3 linked regions of the Homo sapiens genome follow. The protein of the gene in region 3 purifies or fractionates together with the protein of the main gene of each other region. This does not show direct contact. Each region holds a gene or a part of one and is shown on either strand. Other genes may lie near its edges.

Region 1 (4,222 bases), on a different chromosome or scaffold from region 3:
CCTGCTAGTCGCTGTAAGAGATGGAGGACAGCCACCCCTTTCAGCCACTGCCACGCTGCACCTGGTGTTCGCAGATAGCTTGCAAGAGGTACTGCCGGATTTCAGCGACCATCCCACACCCTCTGACTCCCAGGCTGAGATGCAGTTTTACCTGGTGGTGGCCTTGGCCTTGATTTCTGTGCTCTTTCTCCTCGCGGTGATTCTAGCTATTGCTCTACGCCTGCGACAGTCTTTCAGCCCTACTGCAGGAGACTGCTTTGAGTCAGTTCTCTGCTCCAAGTCCGGACCTGTGGGTCCCCCCAACTACAGTGAGGGAACGTTGCCCTATGCCTATAATTTTTGTGTGCCTGGGGATCAAATGAATCCAGAATTTAATTTTTTCACATCTGTTGATCATTGTCCAGCCACACAAGATAACCTCAACAAAGATAGCATGCTACTGGCTAGCATTTTAACTCCCAGCGTTGAAGCAGATAAGAAGATTCTTAAACAGGTAAGTATTTAAAAATGTATTTAATCCTTTTTATATTACAATATGCCAATATATTCCAATATAGTGGTATTATTTTAAGATTCTAGATAACTTCTTCATAGAGTTCGCAAAATATAGGTCAAATTTATGGTTATCATTATTAAAACAAAAGTTTAAATTAAATGCCTCAGTCTTCCTACTATTCAAAGACATTTTAAAGCAAACTACATGGGTAATCTCCGGTGACATTTTTATGAAGTAAAATACCTTTCGGTTAAAAATATAAAATACAGGTATATTTTTACGGCATGGTATTTTAATTGAAACCCTGATGCTACTCAATTTTTCTCAAGTATTTCATCTTCATTTACTCAATAAAGGAACCTTGTAAGAATTATAGTTAGGCATCCTACCTGATGATTTTATCGGGACCGTATTATTTCCACTTCCAGAAATGTCGTTCCTTTCAGTCGGTTAAAATCAATTGGAACCAACTACAACCTACAAGTTTTCAGCTCCAGTAATATTTTGAAAACTTTTTAAAAATTAAGCAAGCCCTTTTAATAATTACTCCTTTCGCAGGTGTTCTTGGTAAAGTTTTAACGTCACATAATGTAAGTATTGTGTATCATCGTTTTTAAGCTCTACAAATACGTGTGATTCACAAAGGTGAGCGTAATCATTTCTTCTGGAATTTCTTAGTCGTTGCAATAATAAGAATGGGCTCTAGGCGCCGCTGCTCACCAATCAGGGAATGGGAAGCTGCGCGCCATTGAGTCCCTCCCTCCCCCGCCTCTACCACACAAAGCGGAATGAGATGGATACTCACAGATCCTGACACTGGAGACTTAGAAGTATTTTCCTTCGCTTTCTGATATATTTTGGATGTAGTCGGCCTAGGACTTCATAGATACATAAGCCGATTCACAACCAACCAGCTCGAGAAACCGCGGAATATCGGCTTAGAGCCTGCCATGGCGAATCGGCTACAGCGCGGGGACCGCAGTCGGCTGCTGCTGCTGCTGTGCATTTTCCTGGGGACGCTGCGGGGGTTCCGGGCCAGGCAGATCCGATATTCGGTGCCAGAAGAGACCGAAAAGGGCTCCTTCGTGGGCAATATCTCCAAGGACCTGGGGCTGGAGCCCCGGGAGCTGGCGAAGCGCGGAGTCCGCATCGTCTCCAGAGGGAAGACACAGCTTTTCGCTGTGAATCCGCGAAGCGGCAGCTTGATCACGGCAGGCAGGATAGACCGGGAGGAGCTCTGTGAGACGGTGTCCTCCTGTTTTTTAAATATGGAACTTCTCGTGGAAGACACCTTGAAGATTTACGGAGTGGAGGTGGAAATAATAGATATTAATGATAACGCCCCCAGCTTCCAGGAGGACGAAGTGGAGATAAAAGTCAGTGAGCACGCAATTCCTGGGGCGCGATTTGCTCTTCCTAATGCTAGGGATCCAGATGTGGGCGTGAACTCCCTCCAGAGCTACCAGCTCAGCCCTAATAATTACTTTTCCTTGCAACTGCGGGGCAGAACGGATGGGGCCAAGAATCCAGAGCTAGTACTGGAGGGAAGCCTGGACCGAGAGAAAGAGGCTGCTCACCTGCTCCTCCTCACAGCTTTAGATGGAGGCGATCCCATCCGAAAGGGCGCAGTTCCCATTCGTGTGGTGGTCCTCGATGTAAATGATCACATCCCAATGTTTACACAGTCCGTATATCGCGTGAGTGTTCCAGAAAACATCAGCTCCGGAACTCGGGTGCTGATGGTTAATGCAACGGATCCAGACGAGGGAATCAACGGGGAAGTAATGTATTCATTTCGGAACATGGAAAGCAAGGCTTCTGAAATATTCCAATTGGATTCACAAACTGGAGAAGTTCAAGTACGGGGGTCTCTGGATTTTGAAAAATATAGATTCTATGAGATGGAAATTCAAGGCCAAGATGGTGGAGGTCTCTTTACCACCACGACGATGTTGATCACTGTTGTGGATGTGAATGATAACGCTCCAGAAATAACTATCACCTCTTCTATTAATTCAATTCTGGAAAACTCTCCTCCAGGTACAGTGATTGCTCTTCTAAATGTGCAAGATCAAGATTCTGGAGAAAATGGTCAAGTCTCCTGTTTTATTCCTAACCACCTGCCTTTTAAATTAGAAAAGACTTATGGAAATTATTACAAATTGATAACAAGCAGAGTGCTGGACAGGGAGTTGGTCCAGAGCTACAATATAACGTTGACAGCCACAGACCAGGGAAGCCCGCCTTTGTCTGCAGAAACTCATGTCTGGCTGAATGTGGCAGATGACAACGATAACCCTCCCGTTTTTCCTCACTCCTCTTACTCTGCCTACATTCCCGAAAACAACCCCAGGGGTGCCTCCATCTTCTCAGTGACCGCCCTCGACCCGGACAGCAAACAGAATGCCCTGGTCACTTACTCTCTGACGGATGACACTGTCCAGGGGGTGCCTCTGTCCTCCTATGTCTCTATTAACTCCAACACTGGTGTTCTCTATGCCCTACAATCCTTCGACTATGAGCAGTTTCGAGACTTAGAACTGAGAGTGATAGCACGTGACAGCGGGGACCCGCCCCTCAGCAGCAACGTGTCGCTGAGCCTGTTCGTGCTGGACCAGAACGACAATGCGCCCGAGATCCTGTACCCTGCCCTCCCCACAGACGGCTCCACTGGCGTGGAGCTGGCGCCCCGCTCTGCGGAACCTGGCTACCTGGTGACCAAGGTGGTTGCGGTGGACAAAGATTCAGGCCAGAACGCCTGGCTGTCCTATCGCCTGCTTAAGGCCAGCGAGCCGGGACTCTTCGCGGTGGGGGAGCACACGGGCGAGGTGCGTACAGCGCGGGCACTGCTGGACAGAGACGCGCTCAAGCAGAGCCTCGTGGTGGCCGTCCAGGACCACGGCCAGCCCCCTCTCTCGGCCACCGTCACGCTCACCGTGGCTGTGGCCGACAGCATCCCCGAAGTCCTGGCGGACCTCGGCAGCCTCGAGTCTCTGGCTAACTCTGAAACCTCAGACCTCTCGCTGTACTTGGTGGTGGCGGTGGCCGCAGTCTCCTGCATCTTCCTGGTCTTTGTCATCGTGCTGCTGGCACTCAGGCTGTGGCGCTGGCATAAGTCACGCCTGCTGCAGGCTTCTGAAGGCGGGTTGGCAGGTATGCCCACGTCACATTTTGTAGGCGTGGACGGGGTACAGGCTTTCCTGCAAACCTATTCCCACGAGGTCTCTCTCATTGCGGACTCGCAGAAGAGTCACCTGATTTTCCCCCAGCCCAACTATGGGGACACGCTCATCAGCCAGGAGAGCTGTGAGAAAAGCGAGCCACTCTTGATAGCTGAAGACTCAGCTATCATTTTAGGCAAATGTGACCCGACAAGTAATCAGGTGAGATTTATTTCTCTGCCTCCTAATTGTTGGTGTCTTGGCACAAGTCTTTTAAGGAGATGTTTTTTGAGCCTGTTATGAAAACTGTTTGGGGGGGGGGTGGGGCGGCATATATTTAGTTCATATATATTTAGAGCAATACATGTGAGTTTTACTTTGCCTTTCATGAGATTACGATAATCTTTCAGAACGTTTTTGTGAAAGTCATTTTTCAATCTTGGCATATTTTCTTTTGATTTCAAAGGGGCCATTCAACTATGCTGGTTTGGTTTGAAGTAAGTTGAATTTTAGTATTATTTTTCTATTATCAGTGTATGAGGCTCTCAATTTATTATATATAGAT
Region 2 (3,653 bases), on a different chromosome or scaffold from region 3:
GGCTCAGTGGCTCATGCCTGTAATCTCAGCACTTTGGGAGGCTGAGGTGGGCGGATAATGAGGTCAAGAGATGGAGACCATCCTGGCCAACATGGTGAAAACCCATCTCTACTAAAAATACAGAAATTAGCTGGGTGTGGTGGCACCTGTAATCCCAGCTACTCGGGAGGCTGAGGCAGGAGAATTGCTTGAACTCGAGAGGCAGAGGTTGCAGTGACCTGAGATCGCGCCACTGCACTCCAACCTGGGCGACAGCGAGACTCCGTCTGAAAAAAAAAAAAAAAAAAAAGCTCAACCATTTTTTTTTTTAAAGAGACAAGGTCTTGCTCTGTCTGCAGGCTGGAGTGCAATGACGCAATCATGGCTCACTGCAGCCTCCAACTGCTGGGCTCAAGTGATCCTCTTGCTTCCTCCTCCTGAGTAGCTGAGACTACAGATGCATGCCAACATGTGTGGATAATTTTTTATTTTATTTTTTTCTGTAGAGACAGGGTCTTGTCATCTTGCCCAGGCTGGTCTCAAACTCCCAGGCTCAAGCGATCCTCCTGCCTCTACCTCCCAAAGTGCTGGGATTACAGGTGTGAGCCACTCTGTCTGGCCACTTCCATCATTTTTAAATGTACAGTTCAATGCCAGGCATTATTTTAAGCTCTTTATATATATTAGCTCATTTATATTCTTTTAATCTTCACAACAGTCTTTTTTTTTTTTTGAGACAGAGTCTCACTCTGTCGCCCAGACTGGAGTGCAGTGATGCTATCTCGGCTCACTGCAACCTCTGCCTCCCAGGCTCAAGCGATTCTCGTGCCTCAGCCTTCTGAATATGTGGGACCATAGGCATGAGCCACCAACACCGGGCTAATTTTTTTGTATTTTTAGGGCTAGGCTGGTCTTGAACTCCTGGCCTCAATTGATCTGCCCACTTCAGCCTCCCAAAGTGCTGGGATTACAGGTTTGAGCCATCACACCTGGCTTCACAACAGTCCTATGATTTGCATTTTACAGAAAAGAAAACACAAGTTCAGAGAGGTTAAGCTACTTGCCTAAGGTCACACAGTGGATGGGGGCAGAGGAGGGACTCAACTCCAGGTCTTCCAGACAGCTAAGTCAGGGGGTCTCAATCGCTTCTCTCTGCTCTCCTCAGCATTGCTTGTTGGTGAATAAATGAGTGAAGAAGCAAAGGTGAGAATGAGTGGATGAAGGAGTGAATGAGGAAATGAATGGTGAAAGGAATGAATGAATGAGCATGGGAACCCATGGCTGGGATGGGTGCTTCATAAGAGCAAGAATCTTGTCTGTGTGTTCTCTGCGGTATCCCAGGCTCCCAGGACAGGGCTTGGCACACATGAGACTCTCAGTAAGTATTGCTAAATAAATGCAAAATATTTAACTTCTCAGCCTGGCCAACATGGTGAAACCCCGTCTCTACTAAAAATACAGAAATTAGCCAGGGTGGTGGTGCATGCCTGTAATCCCAGCTACTCGGGAGGCTGAGGCAGGAGAATTGCTTGAACCTGGGAGGTGGAGGTGGAGGTTGCAGTGAGCCACATTCATGCCACTGCACTCCAGCCTGGGCGACAGAGTGAGACTCTGTCTCAAAAAAAAAAAAAAAAAAAAAAAAAAAAAAAAAAAAAATTATCATCTGCTATGGCAAGAGCACAGCTATCCAGCATGAACTCTAGTTGCTGGATCGTGGGGAGATACAACAGGTCCTGGGGAGGAGCTGGGGTGATAGAGGCATGTGGCAGGCTTGGGGGTTCCATAGAAGCACAGGGGGATCTCTTAGCAAACATGTCAGTATTTTTAACAACCTATATGTACATACCGACGCACACCTGTAATAACTGCTTAATGAATGAGCAAATGAAAAAATGGAGGCCGTGAGGCTGGGCGCGGTGGCCCACGCCTGTAATCCCAACATTTTGGAGGCTGAGGCAGGAGGATCAGTTGAGCTCAGGAGTTTGAGACTAGCCCGGCAGCCCGGGTAACATAGTGAGATCCCATCTCTACTCAAAAAAAAAAAAAAAAAAAAAAATTAGCCAGGTGTGGTGATGCGCGCCTGCAGTCCCAGCTACTAGGGAGGCTGAGGTGGGAGGATCACCTGAGCTCCGGGAAGCAGAGGTTGCAGGGAGGCGTGATCCCGCCATTGTGCTCGAGCAAAGGAAAAGGGGGATGATTGCCCCCTGTAGCCAGATGGCTTGAGGGGCTGGGGCCAGAGCGAGGGGGGAAATTCTGGGCACTGGAGAGCCAGAGCAGTAGTGCCCACTGAGGGCCTTGGCTATTTTGCCCAGACAGGATTTGGACAGCCAACAACGTGAACATCTTTACAGTCCAATATGCAAGAGAATGGGATACTACTGAGAATGGCTGGAGGGTGGGGGTCTGATTTCTGCCCCTTGCGCCCCTGTCTCTCCACTCCCACTCCAGGCTACGACTTCCCGGCCGTGCTGCGCTGGTTCGCGGAGCGCGTGGACCTCATCATCCTGCTCTTTGATGCGCACAAGCTGGAGATCTCGGACGAGTTCTCAGAGGCCATCGGCGCGTTGCGGGGCCATGAGGACAAGATCCGCGTGGTGCTCAACAAGGCCGACATGGTGGAGACGCAGCAGCTGATGCGCGTCTACGGCGCGCTCATGTGGGCGCTGGGCAAGGTGGTGGGCACGCCCGAGGTGCTGCGCGTCTACATCGGCTCCTTCTGGTCCCAGCCCCTCCTCGTGCCCGACAACCGGCGCCTCTTCGAGCTGGAGGAGCAGGACCTCTTCCGCGACATCCAGGGCCTGCCCCGGCACGCAGCCTTGCGCAAGCTCAACGACCTGGTGAAGAGGGCCCGGCTGGTGCGAGTGAGTAGTCCTGAGGGCTGGGCGCGCATTCTTGGAGGAGGTTTCCTCGGTCCTCTCCTACCAGTGCTGTGAGTCCCTGACTTATCAGGGCCCAGGTTAGTTAGTTCTCTTGAAGTTGGGTCATTCTGGCACAGAGTGAAGCCGGGAGGAAGAACTGTATGGAGAGACTCATTCCTCTGCCTTTGGATTTCTGTGTCAACTCCGTGTCACCCTGGCTTCTCTGTCCTGGTATTTCTATTTCTTCTTCCTCTTCCTCCTCCTCCTCCTTCTCTTCTTCTTCTTCCTCTTTTTCTTCTTTCTTCTCTCTTTCCTCCTCCTCCTCTTCTTCTCCCTCCTCCTCCTCCTTCTTCTCTTTCTTCCTCCCCTTCCTCCTTCCTTCCTTCCTTCCTCTGTTCCTCTCTCCCTTCCTCCCTCCTCCCTTCCTCCTTCCTTACATCCTCTTTCGTTCCCTCTTCTTCCTTCTTTTTTAAGAGATGGAGTCTCGCTCTCTTGCCCTGGCTGGAATGCAATGATGCAATCACAGCTCACCACAGCCTTGAACTCCTGGGCTCAAGTGATCCTTCCTCCTTAGCCTGCCCCAAGTAGCTGAGACCACAGGCACGTGTCACCACGCCCAGCTAATTTTTTATTTTTTGTAGAGTCGAGGTCTTACTGTGTTGCCCAGGCTGGTCTTGAACTCCTGCCCTCAAGTGATCCTCCCCTTTTGGCCTCCCAAAGTGCTGGGATTGCAGGCATGAGTATGTTGAATTTTTGAACTTCCTATAAAATATAGACAGACAAATACTCATTATTCTACCCTCTTTATTTTTTGAT
Region 3 (2,607 bases):
ATCTACCTTTATCCTTGAATTACATTTGCTTTACCTGACATCATTTTTCTCTGATCGCCACTCTCCACGGGTACATTGAATGCCTTATATATACTGCCATAATATCCTGTTCTACATCCTTCTATTAAAAGAACTTGTTGTATAACAAATGAGTAGATATTCATTGGACTCACCTGGTCCACCATTTATCCTATCACTAACCAAAATTATTATTATTATAGAATGGTGAATATTTTATTAAAGACTCAATCACAGTGCCAGCTGGAGACAATGGCTTATAAGGTTGTACTCATGCTAGAGGATGTGGTGGTGTATCCTCTGAACTAGTAACTAAGTATAAGCTTGTCTGGTGTCTCCCATATAAAAAATACAACAATCTTTGATATTTGTTATGAATGTTGAAGTGACTCCTTTTGTCATTACATCTAATGATCCACTCCAAATACTTATCTCTTGTCTCTGAGATTCTAGGTTTTTGCAGAATTAGTACCCAAAGGGAGAGTCTTAGCAGTATTCCATTTTACAATCCATCCTTCGTTAGAGGATGAGAGACTTCTATCTAGCCTTTTAGGTTGCCTGAGACCTTTAAAGAAACAGTCAAAAATTTAAAATTTAAAATGCGGCTACACTGTTGCATGGGGTAGTAAATCTTGACCTTAAAACTGGTATTTGTAAGAAAAACAGAAAGAATTCAGGGATCCCCTTTGATGGCTCCTAATTCTATACAGTCCTGTAAATATTCCTGAAGACTAACCAGGCGTGGTGGTGCACACCTGTAATCCCAGCTACTCCAGAGGCTGAGGAAGAGAATCACTTGAACCTGGGAGGCAGAGGTTGCAATGAGCTGAGATTGTGCCACTTCACTCCAGCCTGGGTGACAGAGCAAGACTCTGTCTCAAAAAAAAAAAAAAAAAAAAAGAAGAAAGAAAGAAAGAAAGAAAGAAAGAAAGAAAGAAAGAAAGAAAGAAAGAAAGAAATGAAGACTGCCACAACTTGGAAGCAACCAAGATGTCCTTCAATGAGTGACTGCATAAGCAAACTGTGGTATATTCCTACAGTGGAATATTATTCAGTGCTAAAAGGAAAAAACTATCAAGCCACAAAAAGATACAGAAAAAACAAAGACATTTTGCTAAGTGAAAGAAGCCAGTCTGAAAAGGGTACATACTGTGATTTCAACTATACGACATTCTAGAAAAGGCCAAACTATAAAGACAGTAAAAAGATCAGTGGTTATCTTTGCAGACGCCGCCATCGCTGTGAGCCCTGTACTATCAGCCATGGTCAACTCCGTCATCTTTTTTGACATCACCGTCGACGGCAAGCCCTTGGGCCGCATCTCCATCAAACAGTTTGCAGACAAGATTCCAAAGACAGCAGAAAACTTTCGTGCTCTGAGCACTGGAGAGAAAGGATTTCGTTATAAGGGTTCCTGCTTTCACAGAATTATTCCAGGGTTTATGTGTCAGGGTGGTGACTTCACACACCCTAATGGCACCGGTGACAAGTCCATCTATGGGGAGAAATTTGATGATGAGAACCTCATCCGAAAGCATACAGGTTCTGGCATCTTGTCCATGGCAAATGCTGGACCCAACACAAATGGTTCCCAGTTTTTCATCTGCACTGCCAAGACTGAGTGGTTGGATGGCAAGCATGTGGCCTTTGGCAAGGTGAAAGAACGTGTGAATATTGTGGAAGCCATGGAGCACTTTGGGTACAGGAATAGCAAGACCAGCAAGAAGATCACCATTGCTGACTGTGGACAATTCTAATGAGTTTGACTTGTGTTTTATTTTCACCACCAGACCCATTCCTTCTGTAGCTCAGGAGAGCACCCCTCCACCACATTTGCTTGCAATATCCTAGAATCTTTGTGCTCTTGCTGCAGTTCCCTTTGGGTTCCATGTTTTCCTTGTTCCCTTCCATGCCTAGCTGGATTGCAGAGTTAAGTTTATGATTATGAAATAAAAACTAAGTAACAACAACAACAACAAAAAAGCTCAGTGGTTGCCAGGAGTTTGGGGATGGGTAGGGAGATAAATAGTTCTGAAACAGGCGATTTTTAGGGGATTGAAAATACGTTGGTAATAATGTAATGATGGGTACATGACATTATGCGTTTTGCAAAACTCCTAGACCTGTACCACACAAAGAGTGAACCCTAATGTAAACTGGGGGTGGGATAAAGGTGACAGTATGTGAGAACTCTGTACTTTCTGCTCGATCTTTCCATAAAGCTAAAACTGCTCAAAAAATAAAGTCTATTATTTTGTTAAATGAAAGAAATTAACAATGACCATGGCACGCTCACACAAAAAGATTATCAAGGACATTTCTCTGTCAGGAATGAATATTTGGTCATCTCACAAGGCAAAACCCTGACTAGCAGAGGTGTTAGCTGAGGGCACATGGCCATAGATGCCAATAGTGACCTGCTGGCCACTTGCAGAAAGGAGAGCCTTGACATCCAAACACATTGTTTCTCTTGTATTGTCCTGTGCATACTTATGTATCTTAACAACTTTCCTTCTTTCCTCTCCATTTATCCCTCTTTTTAAAACAGGGCTTATTGAGGGTGATTAACTTAATTTTTAAATGATATAT

What was found.
Region 1: the proteins of PPIAL4G (region 3) and PCDHGA11 purify together in Homo sapiens (affinity purification with mass spectrometry; one large-scale study listed by BioGRID and IntAct). This does not show direct contact.
Region 2: the proteins of PPIAL4G (region 3) and EHD2 purify together in Homo sapiens (affinity purification with mass spectrometry; one large-scale study listed by BioGRID and IntAct). This does not show direct contact.

The regions. Positions count from the first base shown.
Region 1 is NC_000005.10:141,419,782-141,424,003, forward strand, and holds the start of PCDHGA11 (protocadherin gamma-A11 isoform 1 precursor), read left to right. Parts: upstream 1-1,269; 5' UTR 1,270-1,446; coding exon 1,447-3,879; coding exon of another isoform or gene 3,880-3,960; exon of another isoform or gene 3,961-4,222. Other genes in the region: PCDHGB7 (protocadherin gamma-B7 isoform 1 precursor), read left to right, coding at 1-493. UniProt on the Homo sapiens protein: Potential calcium-dependent cell-adhesion protein. May be involved in the establishment and maintenance of specific neuronal connections in the brain.
Region 2 is NC_000019.10:47,723,385-47,727,037, forward strand, and holds part of EHD2 (EH domain-containing protein 2), read left to right. Parts: intron 1-2,427; coding exon 2,428-2,840; intron 2,841-3,653. UniProt on the Homo sapiens protein: ATP- and membrane-binding protein that controls membrane reorganization/tubulation upon ATP hydrolysis. Plays a role in membrane trafficking between the plasma membrane and endosomes. Important for the internalization of GLUT4.
Region 3 is NC_000001.11:148,481,926-148,484,532, reverse strand, and holds PPIAL4G (peptidyl-prolyl cis-trans isomerase A-like 4G), read left to right. Parts: upstream 1-1,230; 5' UTR 1,231-1,280; coding exon 1,281-1,775; 3' UTR 1,776-1,985; downstream 1,986-2,607. UniProt on the Homo sapiens protein: PPIases accelerate the folding of proteins. It catalyzes the cis-trans isomerization of proline imidic peptide bonds in oligopeptides.